Linked DNA regions of Homo sapiens. The protein of the gene in region 1 interacts with the protein of each later gene in a biochemical or structural test. Each region holds a gene or a part of one and is shown in the gene's direction. Other genes may lie near its edges.

Region 1 (3,500 bases):
GAGACGTTTTGTGGTGAAACACTGGAAATCCAGTTATTCGCCAGTGGCCCACAGGCCCGTGTGGAGAGTGCGGAGCCAGGGATCTGGGGATGCTGGCAGGTGCTGATCCTGCTCCTGCTCTCAGAAGCAGGTGTTCCTTGGTGTCCCCACTCTACCCCTGAGGTCACCCCGCTGACCCTGTTCTCCTCTGTGCCCGTCAGGAACCACGAAGGCGGAGGACCGGGGCATGCTGCTGAAAACCTTCAACGAGCCCGGCTCTGAGTACTTCATCTTCCTGCTCAGCACCCGGGCTGGGGGGCTCGGCCTGAACCTCCAGTCGGCAGACACTGTGATCATTTTTGACAGCGACTGGAATCCTCACCAGGTAAAAGCGGGCCGGGCCCCAGGTCGAGGAGAAGGAAGGGGGTGCCTGCAAAACCTCGAGGAGACGGCCCTGGCTTGAGGGTCCTCCAGCCTCCTCCACATTGTCTTGGACCCCAGGAGCCGGGAGGAGCTGCACCCATATCTCCATAGGTCATCAGGGAGAAAAGAGGCGGGGTCCTCCTGTTTCCCAAAATACAAACAGCCTTTCCCTCTGATTGGGAAAGCAGTGTATAAGCCATCCGTCGGTTTGGTTTTTCTTAAATCTTGGAATGGCACCCATGAGGAGGTGGAAAGTATCCTGATCAATCTGCGCCGTCACTGTGGGGCGGCCCCTGCAGTGTGCCCTGTGAGCACACACACTGGCGCTTGTTCAGACACAATTGGGGGTAAACTCCATGCCACTTCGTTTACTTCCTCCTCTTGTTCCATAACCATGTACCCCTCATGGGCCTCGGCATCGGTGGATACCAGGTCATGCTGTTACATAGCTACAAGAATTTGAAAATGAGTTAAACTTTTCTCTGTGTTTCATTATAAGACTGATAAGTTCTTATTGTTTTTAACATGTAAACACCAGTGACAGTCAGGAGTCCCTTTTCCCTTCCTCTCCAACCGTGCTCTCTTCTGAGCCTCTGCCAGCCCATCTGCCTTCGCACATGTATGTACTGAGATTAACACAGATGCGGCGTGGCCTAGCATGTGCCTCTTCCACCAAGCAGTGGGTGTCAACCGCCGAGTGCACATCGGAAGCTACCCAGCCATCTAATCGGCCACCAGGCGTCCCGGCAGATGGCCACCCCTGGACGTCTGCTCTCAAACTCTGGTTGGCAGGCATCCGTCTTTTCTGTTGATCAGCCTGGTCACCAACCCAGCAGGGTCCCTCTTTCTCTCAGAGTGCTTGTGCAAACACCCTAGGTCTGCGCAGCCCTCAGACATGGGGTCGCTCCACCCCAGACATTGTCCTCTTCGTGTTCTGGTTGCTACTGCCAAAGTGGTTTCACTCCTACGCTGGGGTGTGAATGTACCCTGCCCTTCCCTGCAGCGTGAGGGCAGCAGCGTTCTCAGTGTGTAAATTGTCGCTTGTCTGATGGGTGAATGCCGTGGTGGTCACTGGTGGCCCCTTTTACGATCAGGCTGGGGTGTAGCTTCTGCCCAGACCCTGGTGACCAGCCAGTTTCTTAGGAGGTGGTTGAGTTGTGTGTCCCCGTTGGCAGGCCGGCAGCAGGCGGAAGCTGCACCTCAGGGCTGGGGGCGCGTTGGGGAGGGCTGGCCCTGCCAGGAAGTGTGCTGACAGGGCAGGAGGGCTGAGCGGCAGACACAAGGCACTCCTGGTCCCCACCAGCTGTGGCCTCTGCCACCCCATGGGTGCCAGTCTTAAGTTTCAGAGCATCACTGGTACTCACCCTGGTCCTGCAGCTCCTGGGCCCAGAGACAGGATTTCGTGTTAGCCTCCTCGTACTGTGCTGGGGTGATGATAAAACTAACAACCCAGGCTGGACGCAGTGGCTCACACCCGAAATCCCAACATTTTGGGAGGCCGAGGTGGGTGGATCAACTGAGGTCAGGAGTTCGAGACCAGCCTGGCCAACATGGCGAAACCCTGTCTCTACTAAAAATACAAAAATTAGCCAGGCATGGTGGTGCATGCCTGTAGCCCCAGCTACTCAGGAAGCTGAGGCAGAAAAATCGCTTGAACTTCGGGAGGCAGAGGTTGCAGTGAGCTGAGATCGCACCACTGCACTCCAGCCTGGGCGACAGAGCGAGACTTTGTCTCAAAAAAAAAAAAAAAGAAAAAAAGCCCATCCACGGCACCTGCATTGTTGGGAGCTAACTGCACCAGTCACTGGGCCACACTCCTGGTGCTTATTCACTCATTCGAGGTATGCAGTAGCCACGGGTTGGGCCCCATGTAGGCTGAGGGAGTTTTGAGGCTCACAGAGGTGAGACCTGGTTCCGGTTCTGTGTGCACTGTGAGAGTGGCAGGGCCCACAGCCAAACCAAGCACTGCCACAACACGGCCGAGCTTCGGCCCCCTGTTGTAAATGGTGCTCGACTGTGTAGGTCCACGCTGTGGGGAGCTGTGCCGCTGCCACGGGAGCTGCTTGAGAATATAATCCCCTGGGGGGTTGGTGCTTTCTTCCCGAATATCTGTGGGGTCCCAATAAGGTAGAAGGTGGCACTTCTGGAGGAACGTGATGAGAGTCCCCTTCCCCCGAGGGACACATGGCGGCCCAGGCTCCACCAGCTCTGTTTTCATGCGGCGGCAGGTCAGGCTGGGCAGAATTGTCAGGCCGAGGGTGGCACGCACAGCACACCTCTCCAGCTAGTGTCAGAGGCCACCTTCCCTTTTATGACCTCCTGGGCTCCTTTGGGACTGACTGGCACCTCTTCCCCCAGGACCTGCAAGCGCAGGACCGAGCCCACCGCATCGGGCAGCAGAACGAGGTGCGTGTGCTCCGCCTCTGCACCGTCAACAGCGTGGAGGAGAAGATCCTAGCTGCAGCCAAGTACAAGCTCAACGTGGACCAGAAGGTGATCCAGGCCGGCATGTTCGACCAGAAGTCCTCCAGCCATGAGCGGCGCGCCTTCCTGCAGGCCATCCTGGAGCACGAGGAGCAGGATGAGGTGAGCCCAGCACCGGCCCCGACCCCTCCCCAGCGTGAATGGTGGACGCGTGAGCGGCTTTCATTTTTGTTTTTTTACCTTTTTTGCACTCTTATTTTTTTTGCATCCCTTTGGAGTAAAGGGAGTGTGGGCTGAACGGAAAGAGGATGAGTACTTGCTTTTTCTTTGAAGTGGTTTTTTTTTCTAAACTGCTGGTGAAAGACGCCGGATTGACAGCCCTGGAGACTGAAGTCCTCTATTTATCCACAGAGCAGACACTGCAGCACGGGCAGCGGCAGTGCCAGCTTCGCCCACACTGCCCCTCCGCCAGCGGGCGTCAACCCCGACTTGGAGGAGCCACCTCTAAAGGTGAGAGGGGTAGTTCAGTCTCCATGCCCATTCAATCCTCGGCTTCTCGGCTGAGACGGCCAGCAAGGGCCCTGGTCCCACGGAGCGTGCGTGTGCGTGTGCGTGTGTGTGCCTTTCGCTGCCGTGTGGGTCCCCATCCACCGCAGCCGTGCCGGGACCACCAG
Region 2 (3,500 bases), on another chromosome or scaffold:
TAGTCGAGATGGGGTCTCATCCTGTTGGCCAGGCTGGTCTCGAAGTCCTGGTCTGAAGTGATCCGCCCGCCTTGGCCACCCAAAGTGATGGGATTATAGGCGTGAACCACCGCCCCCAGCCTTACTTTTTTTGTTGTTGTTGAGCCAGAGTCTCGCTCTGTCGCCCAGGCTGGAGTGCAGTGGCGTGATCTCGGCTCACTGTAACCTCCGCTTCCTGGGTTCCCACCATTCTCCTGCCTTAGCCTCCCGTGTAGCTGGGATTATAGGCGCCCGCCACCATGCCTGGCTAAGTTTTGTATTTTTAGTAGAGACTGGGTTTCACCATGTTGGTCAGGCTGGTCTTGAACTCCTGACCTTGTGATCCGCCCGCCTCGGCCTCCCAACGTGCTGAGATTACAGGTGTGAGCCACCACGCCTGGCCCAGAATTGACTTTTTTTTTCTTTTTTTGAGTCGGAGTCTTGCTCTGTTGCCCAGGCTGGAGTGCAGTGGCACCATCTTGGCTCACTGCAAGCTCCACCTCCTGGGTTCACGCCATTCTTCTGCCTCAGCCTCCTGAGTAGCTGGGACTACAGGCGCCCGCCATCACGCCCAGCTAATTTTTTGTAGTTTTGGTAGAGACGTGGTTTCACCATGTTAGCCAGGATGGTCTCGATCTCCTGACCTTGTGATCCGCCCCCCCCTTGGCCTCCCAAAGTGCTGGGATTACAGGTGTGAGCCACGGCACCTGGCCCACATTTTACTTTTGACAAACCTCAGCTTATTATTATTATTTTTTCCTGGTTTGTGCTTTTTATATCCTATCTGCGAAGTCCATGCAAGACCCAACGGCACTAAGATTTTTGCCTGTCTTTTCCACTGGAAGTTTCATAGTTTTAGATTTTACATTTGTCTCTGTCTGGCCATCCTTACACAGCCACAATACTGTATTGTTTACTATAGCATGATGGTAAGTCAGTTAAGTAATATGAGTCTTCCAGCTTCATTCTTTTTCAAAATTGCTTTGGTTTTTCTACACGTTTTTTCTGTGAACTTTAGAATCAGCTTGTCAGTGTCTACAAGCCCTCTGGGATTTTGACTGGAATTGCATTGAATGTATGAAACAATCTGGAGGACAGCTGACATTTTAACAATACTGAGTCTTCTGATTCACACACCCATAGGTCAGTGATGGGAGCAAGGCTCAGGCTAAAGCAGATTCAGGGTGTCTTTCTGTGTGGAACGTTTAGGAAAAGTATGTTTGCATGCCACTGTCTCCTGACCAAACCCTTCGCTTTTTTGTCTTCTAGTATCTTTATGTATCCTTATAGATTATTATAGGCAGTAATGATTAATGATGAGATATTAAAACGCCTTTGTTCTTTTGATTTAAGGAGAGGGCAAGTATTGAGGATTTTCCCTCTTGCTTTTGTATTCAGGGCCGGGCGCTGGTGGCTCACGCCTGTAATCCCAGCACTTTGAGAAGCCGAGGCGGGCATATCACGAGGTCAAGAGATCGAGACCATCCTGGCCAACATTGTGAAACCTCATCTCTACTAAAAATACAAAAATTAACTGGCCCTGGTGGTGTGCGCCTGTAATCCCAGCTACTCAGGAGGCTGAGGCAGGAGAATCGCTTGAACCCGGGAGGCAGAGGTTGCAGTGAGCTGAGATCGTGCCACTGCACTCCAGCCTGGGCCACAGAAAGAGACTCCGTCTCAAAAAAAAAAAAAGAAAAAAAAAATCCCAAAGTGTCAGAATTACTGTATTCAGCTATAGATGCATCCCTGTATATAAGATGCAGTTTCTTATACGTGTACAAATGCCTATCGCAGGCCAGGTGCGGTGGCTCAAGCCTGTAATCCCAACACTTTGGGAGGCTGAGGCGGGTGGATCAAGAGGTCAGGAGTTCAAGACCAGCATGGTGAAACCCCGTCTCTACTAAAAATACAAAAAATTAGCTGGGTATGGTGGCGCATGCCTGTAGTCCCAGCTGCTCAGGAGGCTGAGGCAGGAGAATGGCTTGAACCTGGGAGGTGGAGGTTGTGGTGAGCCGAGATGGTGCCACTGCACTCCAGCCTGGGCGACAGTGCGAGACTCCATCTCAAAAAAAAAAAAACAAACAAAAACAAAAAAAAAAACAAATGCCTATCACAGTTGGCTCAGTCACTTTTTCTGTGACTGTCATTGCTTCAATTTTATGTTGATTTATGAAACCTAAGTTTACACAGAAAAGAAATTAAGGACTAAATTAAGATACTGAAGAATTACTTAAGCCCCTGAGTTTTTTTTTTTCTTTTTTTTTTTTTGAGACAGAGTCTTGCTCTGTCACCCAGGCTGGAGTGCAGTGGCGCCATATCGGCTCACTGCAAGCTCCTCCTCCCGGGTTCTCGCCATTCTCCTGCCTCATCCTCCTGAGTAGCTGGGATTACAAGGCGCCCGCCACCACGCCCGGCTAATTTTTTGTATTTTTAGTAGAGATGGGGTTTCACTGTGTTAGCCAGGATGGTCTCGATCTCCTGACCTTGTGATCTGCCCGCCTCGGTGTGAGCCACCGGACCTAGCCAACCCCCTGAGTTTTTTTAAAGTTCTAATAATACTCATCAGGTTAGCTGTGTATGCAAGCATATTGTAAAATTGCTTTTTTTTTTTTTTATTTCCAGTTGGAGTCTAGCTCTGTCGCCAAGGCTGGAGTGCAGTGGCGCGATCTCAGCTCACTGCAACCTCTGCCTCCTGGGTTCATGCGATTCTCCTGCCTCAGCCTCCCAAGTAGCTGGGATTATAGGCAACCGCCACCATGCCCAGCTAATTTTTGTATTTTTAGTAGATATGGGGTTTCACTGTGTTGGCCAGGCTGGTCTCGAACTCCTGACCTCGTGATCCATTCACCTCAGCTTCTCAAAGTGCTGGGTTTACAAGTATGAGCCACTGCGCCTGGCTGTAAAATTGCCATTTAAGAGGCTGTGTGTAACTGGAGGTATTGATGGGTGTCTTTGAGAGGGTGGGGATTCAGAAAGGTTCAGGATGGGCCGGGCGCGGTGGCTCACGCCTGTAATCTCAGCACTTTGGGAGGCCAAGGTGGGCAGATCATGAGGTCAAAAGATCGAGACCATCCTGGCTAACATGGTGAAACCCCGTCTCTACTAAAAACACAAAAAATTAGCCAGGCGTGATGGCGGGCGCCTGCAGTCCCAGCTACTCTGGAGGCTGAGGCAGGAGAATGGTGTGAACCTGGGAGGCGGAGCTTGCAGTGAGCCGAGATGGTGCCACTGCACTCCAGCCTGGGCGACAGAGCGAGACTCCGTCTCAAGAAAAAAAAAAAAATTTCTTTATGTCTTTCTTGGTCAAGTGTTTTTTTTTACATATGTACAATGGGGATCCTGAGTTGGAACCACATACTTTGGTAAACAAAGTGCAGTAGTGTTCACAGTTACCACGATCATATCCCGTGTTGACCCACCCTCTCTTTTTTAGGTTGCGACCTTTCCTTCCCCAGCAATAAACTGGTCTCTGGAGATCACTG
Region 3 (3,500 bases), on another chromosome or scaffold:
ACAACTGAACCGACTCTAAAGTACCCTGTGCTAGAAAGCATTCTGCCTTCTTTTTCCCTTCTCCTGTTGTAGTAGACTGTTTCATTCAGTAGATTATCTGCCTAAAATTACTACTGAAGCTTAATCAGACATGGTTTAAAAATTTTTAGGCAATAGACCTATGTTCATAGCAGCATTATTCACTGTAGCCCAAAGGTAGAAACAACCCATATGTTCATTGACAAATGAATGGATAAACAACATGTGTTATATCTATACAATGGAATTTTATTCAGTCTTTAAAAAAAAGAAATTCTGACACATGTCACAACATAGATCAACCTTAAGGACATTACGCTTAGGGAAATAAGCTAGTTGCAAAAGAATAAATACTGTACGATTCGCTTCTATGAGGGACTTAGATAGAATAGTCAAATTCGTAAAGGCAGAAAGGAAAATGGCGGTTGCCAGGGGCTAAAGGATGGGGTGTGGGAAATTATGGTTGAATGGGTACACGATTTTAGTCTTGCAGGATGAAAAGAATTCTGAAGACAGATGGTGGTGATGGTCACACAATTGTGTGAATGTACTTAATGCCCCTTAACTGTACACTTAAAAATGGTTGATAGTAAATTTAAAGTTATGTGTATTTTGCCACAATTGGAAAAAAAAATACCTTGACCAAACCTAGTTCAAAATCTTGCAGTGCTGCTTCTAATGATTTCCTACGGAGATAACCACCTTCTAAATTGTCTGTCCTCCTTTGGTTAATTTGTAATAGCAAATGACCCGGAGTCAGCAGATGGATGAACTCCTGGACGTGCTTATTGAAAGCGGAGGTAAGACTGCCTGTGTCCTGTCCATTAGGACATTCTGAGCCCACATGAACTCTAAGGAATGAACTCTCGGTACCAAGATCAGATGCACACTGTGAGTTGGATGTACCAGGTAGTCCTCAGGGAGAGCCATTTCCTTTGAGCTTCTCGCACATTTTTAGAGCTGATAAAAGAAGGCTTAGTGGATGATTCCTCACTGCCTTTGTCCTAGGAGCATTTTTCAGCAATCATTTTAATAGTTTTCATGTTTCAGCCTAATCCTTGTTTCCTTAAGTGTTTTCTCTTGCTGCACTTCTTCTTTCTATGTTCTAATCTCAATGCCCCTACCTTCTCAATTATAATAAAAGAAAAAAGCAGATAATGAACATTTTGTGCTACCTACTCAAAGTGAAATTCAATTAGCAACCTTCCACTGGATGGTTCATTCATGCTTAAATGTTATACATGCTAGCAATAAAACATAATCAGCATGTTCTTTTTGTCACCTTTTAATTTGTTCATTTATTTACTTAAAAAATTATGGAGTGTGTACCTAGAATTTTAAACCACACAAATGAATAAGATGACCTAAGGAGCATGTGTAGATCAAAATAAAAGCACTCAGGGAGGAATCCTTAAGCCAAAAACATTTAAAATTTCAGAGACGGAGGTAGCAAAGGACTCAGAGAAGGGGTAGCCAGGCGTTGTCATAGTCTCCGTGCTATGATCAGACAAGATCCTGATTCCTATGGAGTTTACAGTCTGGTAAGGGAGACAGACAACAAGCAAGTGAACAGACCTTTCCTCCATTGTAGCAAGAGGGAAGAAGGAAGAGATGGGTACAAACATATGTATGTAAATGAGTTCTGTAATGGAAAGATGAGAAGAGTTCATATCAGATGCCCATACACACACACACACACACACACACACACACACACACACACACACACATTTTTGAGACGGAGTCTCACTCTGTCGCCAGGCTGGAGTGCAGTGGCGGGATCTTGGGTCACTGCGACCTCCGCCTCCTGGGATCAAGCGATTCTCCTGCCTCAGCCTCCCAAGTAGCTGGGACTACAGGCGCGTGCCACCACGCCCAGCTAATTTTTTGTATGTTTAGTAGAGACGGGGTTTCACCATGTTGGCCAGGATGGTCTCAATCTCTTGACCTCGTGATCTGCCCACCTAGGCCTCCCAAAGTGCTGGGATTAAAGGCGTGAGCCACCACGCCCAGCCTGCCCTTGTATATTTTTAATGAAATATGTGGCAAGGCCAGAAAAGCGTGAGGATGCAGAAGGGGAGTGTGGAAGATTCAGGGGAAGAAGAGCAGTTATGACTTAATCATGAATGAACTGAGTTTTCTGGAGAAACACAGCTGGGTTGTTTTGCAGTCTTAAATGCCAGTTGTAGGTCTGACCTCAGAAATCTAAAGTGAAACCAAGTCAGCTTAGTTGTTTAATTTTTCTCTTGCAATGTTCTGCTGATCCAGAGCATGCTCAGCGAAGGCAGATGATCAGGTTCCTCCAGGTGTGGGGTTCTGCCAAAAATACAGGCTAGACAAGGAAAGAAGTGAAGACCAGAGGGGCTGGTGGACAGTGATAACATAGTAGAGTCTATGGATTAGTGTGACTGTAAATGGTTGGGAAATTATTGTTACAAGGTACATAATAAGTGGCTTGGAGGGTTGGGAGAGGATGGACAGAGAATAGAAAATATAGCTTGAAAGTGAGCTTTCAGAGGGATGCAGTATTTGGAGATGACACAATCCAAGGTGTGTCTGACAGAGTGGCAGTGGGGGAATCACTGGAGTTGAGGAGGAAGTCGGGAGCTCAGAGGCCAGCATGAACACTGTGATTTCCAAGGATGCTCAGGTTACAGAATGAGAAGGGTTCAAGTGGGGAAAAGGCAATGGAGTAGGAAGCAGAGTTTTCAGTAGATGAGGGGGAGTGACCAGGAGGCTAGGGGTGAGGCATTGCTGTCACCCTCAAAACCCAAAACTGCTGAGTTGTCATCAGAAGCGGGGGGAGTAGCAATCAGAAAGTGGCAATGGCATGGCGCCTGGTCCCTCATCTTCAGGCCCTCACTGATGGTGTTGGGATGGACTCAGTGTCCTCAAGGGACTACCAGGGGTCAGAGGAGTAGGCCAGGAACCTTCAGAGAAGAGAGTTTAATAATCACAGAGTGGAATTCCCAAGAGGAAAGGGTTTGGGAAAAACCAGAGGGAAGATGAATTGGAGATTGATAGAGCAGCTTAGAGATGAGACTGGGTGGTGAGCGGTGACCAGGGAAGCGTGGCCATCTTCTGTATCTAAGTGTAACTCACTCATATTGTGTGGCATGCTCAATTTGAAGTGATTTAACAAGTCACATCGTGTATTGCCCACAGAAATGCCAGCAGACGCTAGAGAGGATCACTCATGTCTTCAAAAAGTCCCAAAGATACCCAGATCTTCCCGAAGTCCAACTGCTGTCCTCACCAAGCCCTCGGCTTCCTTTGAACAAGCCTCTTCAGGCAGCCAGATCCCCTTTGATCCCTATGCCACCGACAGTGATGAGCATCTTGAAGTCTTATTAAATTCCCAGAGCCCCCTAGGAAAGATGAGTGATGTCACCCTTCTAAAAATTGGGAGCGAAGAGCCTCACTTTGATGGGATAATGGATGGATTCTCTGGGAAGGCTGCAGAAGACCTCTTCAATGCACAT
Region 4 (3,226 bases), 5.8 Mb from region 1:
CTGTGTTCCTGCAGAGGTAAGAGGCCCTGAGATGCATGCTCTGTTCCTTCCTTCCTGGGCCCAGGGAGTGTCCCCTTTGTCCTGACGGGGGCTGGACCATGGCACACTGTCTGGGAGCACTTAGTAGGTGCCTGCTGTGTGCTGAGGCAGGCCCTGCCCTTTTGAGGCTTGTGGTTTGCAGTGGAGGGATTAGTAACCCCAGGACGGTGAGGTGTAGGAGGGGCAAGGCCAACCCCACGATGCGTCAGTGGGTGAAGAGTGAATGCCCGGACTGGAGGGAGACGCTGCCAGAGCTGGTGGGGCCAGGCCAGAGGCGGGTGGCTGTGGCAGGACCCTGGACCACCTCAGGTCGGGCTAGGATGGCACCTATGGGACCAGTGGGGGCTGCTGGTGGGTGTTCAGATCTGGGGGCATTTCTTGTTGCTTCCATTTGCTTTCTGTGGACCCCTGGGAGGTAGCACATCTTCTGATGGTCCCAGGCCTGGGGGTTTCCCAGCCTGCAAATCCTCCTCCCACAATGCCGAGAGCCAGAGTCCATTCCACCTCCTTTCGCCCCCAGGAACCTCAAGAAGTTCCGCCGCCGGTGGCAGAGCGAGCAGGCGCGGGCCCTGCGCGGTGAGGCCAGGAGCTCCTGGAAGCGGCTGGTGGGCGTGGAGAGCGCCTGCGACGTGGACTGCCGCTTCAAGCTCAGCACTCACAAGATGGTGTTCATCGTGAACTCCGAGGACTACATGTACCGTCGCGGGACCCTCTGCCGGGCCAAGCAGGTGCCAGGGGAGGCCTGGGCTGCCCCGACATGCCCCTCCTCACCCCAAGTCCTGGGGCCCTGGGGGTCCAGCCCTCAGCTGCCCTGACACCCGGCCTCTTCAACAGGTGCAGCCCCTGGTCCTGCTCCGCCACCACCAGCACTTTGAGGAGTGGCACAGCCGCTGGCTGGAGGACAATGTGACGGTGGAGGCGGCTAGCCTGGTGCAGGACTGGCTGATGGGTGAGGAGGACGAGGACATGGTACCCTGCAAGACGCTGTGTGAGACAGTGCACGTGCACGGCCTGCCCGTGACCCGCTACCGCGTGCAGTACAGCCGCCGCCCGGCCTCGCCCTGACCCGCCCTCATGGGCACCGGGCAGGCGCCTCACAGAGCACAGACGTGCCCTCGGCCTTGGTCGTGTCGGGGCCGTTTTCTTGAACGACGTGAGAGGCATCTCCCAGCCCCTCTGCTGCCGGACAGCGCACTCCAGGGCAGGACGCCGCCCCCGTGGCTCCCGGTCTCCTGTGGGCCTGCTGTGTGCCAAACCTGAGCTACCTGCACCCGAGCCCTGGGGCTCAGCCCCACCACAGGGGCGGGTGGACGTGCTGGCCGAGGAACAAGCAATCATGTTTGCGTCCCCGTCCGTCACATGTGCCAAATCCCTGGCAGGCAGATGGCTCCTGCCCCATATTCTTGCCGTGTCTTGGAAAAGTCACAGGTGACAGCCCTCCTGAGGCCCACACTTTGGAGGGGGTCCATGTCCAAGAGACCCTGACAAGGAAGGAGTTGAGCCCTGGGTAGGCTTGCTTGAAAAGTGAGTCCTTCCAGAATATTCTCAGAGCTGCCAGAAACATCATCTGAGGGTTTGGGCATCAGCTCTGCCTGGCTGGTGTTCAGGCCCTCAGTCACTTTGGAAGTGAGAAGAACCCTTCAGCCAAACCTTTGGGATCCCATTTTGAAGTCCAGAGCTGGAGCAGGCGGGCAGTGCCCTGGGAGACCCCGCTCTGGATAAGACACCCAACCCCAACTCCAGCAGCTGGACTCTGGGCCCACAAGGGGAGGGACCCCAGCCAGTATTCCCTCAGAGCCGGCACGACCCTGCTGTGGGGCGGCGGGCCCAGTCGTGTTCCTGCAGTGGGCACCCTAGGCGTATGTGTATACACGCACAGATATTTATTCCTTTCGCTTTTAGTGGTTGTTATTTCTGTAGCAGCCAAGTCCTGCGGCTCCCTGGGGCTGAGATCTCCCTTTGTGGAACTCCGAGAGCCGCCCTGACAGTCCCAGCCGCCACCCAAGGAGCCCCATCCGCCCACCCACCCTGGGACCCACGCGGCCACTCCAGGGATCATTGTTGTCCTTTTGTGAGGGGCTGAGGCGACTGTCCCATGGAGGCATCCAAGGCTTTCTGTGCCAAGAATCCCAAGTGACTGGGGCTGGGGACCACTTCTCCAGGCCTCTCTCCCCGACCATGAGAGCCCCTGGCCCTGGCCCCTGCACACCAGTAGGCCCAGAATAACCGCCACCCTTGCCATCCTGCAACAGCTGGACTCAAGTTTCCAGGAAGTGGAGATGTGTTTCTAGAAGTTTCCTGTGGAACCTGGAGGCTCCTGATGCCTTTGACTCCAGGCTGGGCGATTCCGATGCTGACCCGTCCTCCTGGGCTCCCCACCCCCGCTCCCCAAGTGTCACACAGGCACTTTGTACACATCCTGGTTTTCTAAGAAGGGAACTTGCCATCAAGATTCCTGTACCAGGCCCACGGCCGTCTCGGGCAGAGCCACCTGGGCCCCGGGTGCAGCCGGAGACCCCGCCGAGCCCCTCCTCCCAGTATTCCCATCCCCGCATGCTTCTAGGGAGCGCCTCTTTTCCGTTCTTGAGGAATTTCTGTTCTGGGGCTTGTCCTTCCTTTGCAGCTGTTTTGAATGTAGTTTTCCTTTTCTATTTATTTGCACATTAAAGTTAATAATTGAATATTGACATCAAGCCGTGAGGGTGTGTTGGTCTTCCTGTGAGAGCCTTGCTGACTTCCTGCCACCAGGTCAGTGGGCTGGACCCATGAGAGCAAGGGGTGGCTGGGTGTGCCTACCTGGGACCAGGGGAGTCGAAGCCCCTCCTTGAACCAAGATCATCTCACACCCTGCACCTGCCCCGCCACGACATGGGAGTGTCTTCTAGAATATTCTTTCCCCATTCCATTTGCACATTTAGTGGGAATTAGAAGCGTCTCCTTCGCCCGAGTGTCTCTCATGCAGAACCCAATTTAAAGATCATGGTGTTTGCTCTAAGGTGTTTGTTCTAAGCTTCCCATGCCCAACCTATCCGTCCAGGCCCATGCCTGCCCACCCACCCCACACGACCACCCTCTGTACTCCTTGGGGCCCCACCCACTTCCTGGCTTTCACCATCATTTTCTCCTCATCTCCTGCCCCCTGTCTGCATCCCAAGCTCCACACCTGCTTCCGGGTAGCAGAAGCCCC

Evidence for each region. The genes of interacting proteins can lie anywhere in the genome.
Region 2: of the proteins of SMARCA4 (region 1) and CHFR, one has a biochemical effect on the other in vitro, tested with the Homo sapiens proteins (one study listed by BioGRID).
Region 3: the proteins of SMARCA4 (region 1) and MYOCD form a complex in vitro, tested with the Homo sapiens proteins (one study listed by BioGRID).
Region 4: the proteins of SMARCA4 (region 1) and SIN3B form a complex in vitro, tested with the Homo sapiens proteins (one study listed by BioGRID).

What each region holds. Positions count from the first base shown.
Region 1 is NC_000019.10:11,030,530-11,034,029, forward strand, and holds part of SMARCA4 (SWI/SNF-related matrix-associated actin-dependent regulator of chromatin subfamily A member 4), read left to right. Parts: intron 1-200; coding exon 201-364; intron 365-2,760; coding exon 2,761-2,988; intron 2,989-3,237; coding exon 3,238-3,336; intron 3,337-3,500. UniProt on the Homo sapiens protein: ATPase involved in transcriptional activation and repression of select genes by chromatin remodeling (alteration of DNA-nucleosome topology).
Region 2 is NC_000012.12:132,877,606-132,881,105, reverse strand, and holds part of CHFR (E3 ubiquitin-protein ligase CHFR), read left to right. Parts: intron 1-3,451; coding exon 3,452-3,500. UniProt on the Homo sapiens protein: E3 ubiquitin-protein ligase that functions in the antephase checkpoint by actively delaying passage into mitosis in response to microtubule poisons.
Region 3 is NC_000017.11:12,759,890-12,763,389, forward strand, and holds part of MYOCD (myocardin), read left to right. Parts: intron 1-244; exon of another isoform or gene 245-760; coding exon 761-818; exon of another isoform or gene 819-3,183; coding exon 3,184-3,500. UniProt on the Homo sapiens protein: Smooth muscle cells (SM) and cardiac muscle cells-specific transcriptional factor which uses the canonical single or multiple CArG boxes DNA sequence. Acts as a cofactor of serum response factor (SRF) with the potential to modulate SRF-target genes.
Region 4 is NC_000019.10:16,877,624-16,880,849, forward strand, and holds the end of SIN3B (paired amphipathic helix protein Sin3b), read left to right. Parts: coding exon 1-16; intron 17-559; coding exon 560-767; intron 768-873; coding exon 874-1,104; 3' UTR 1,105-2,726; downstream 2,727-3,226.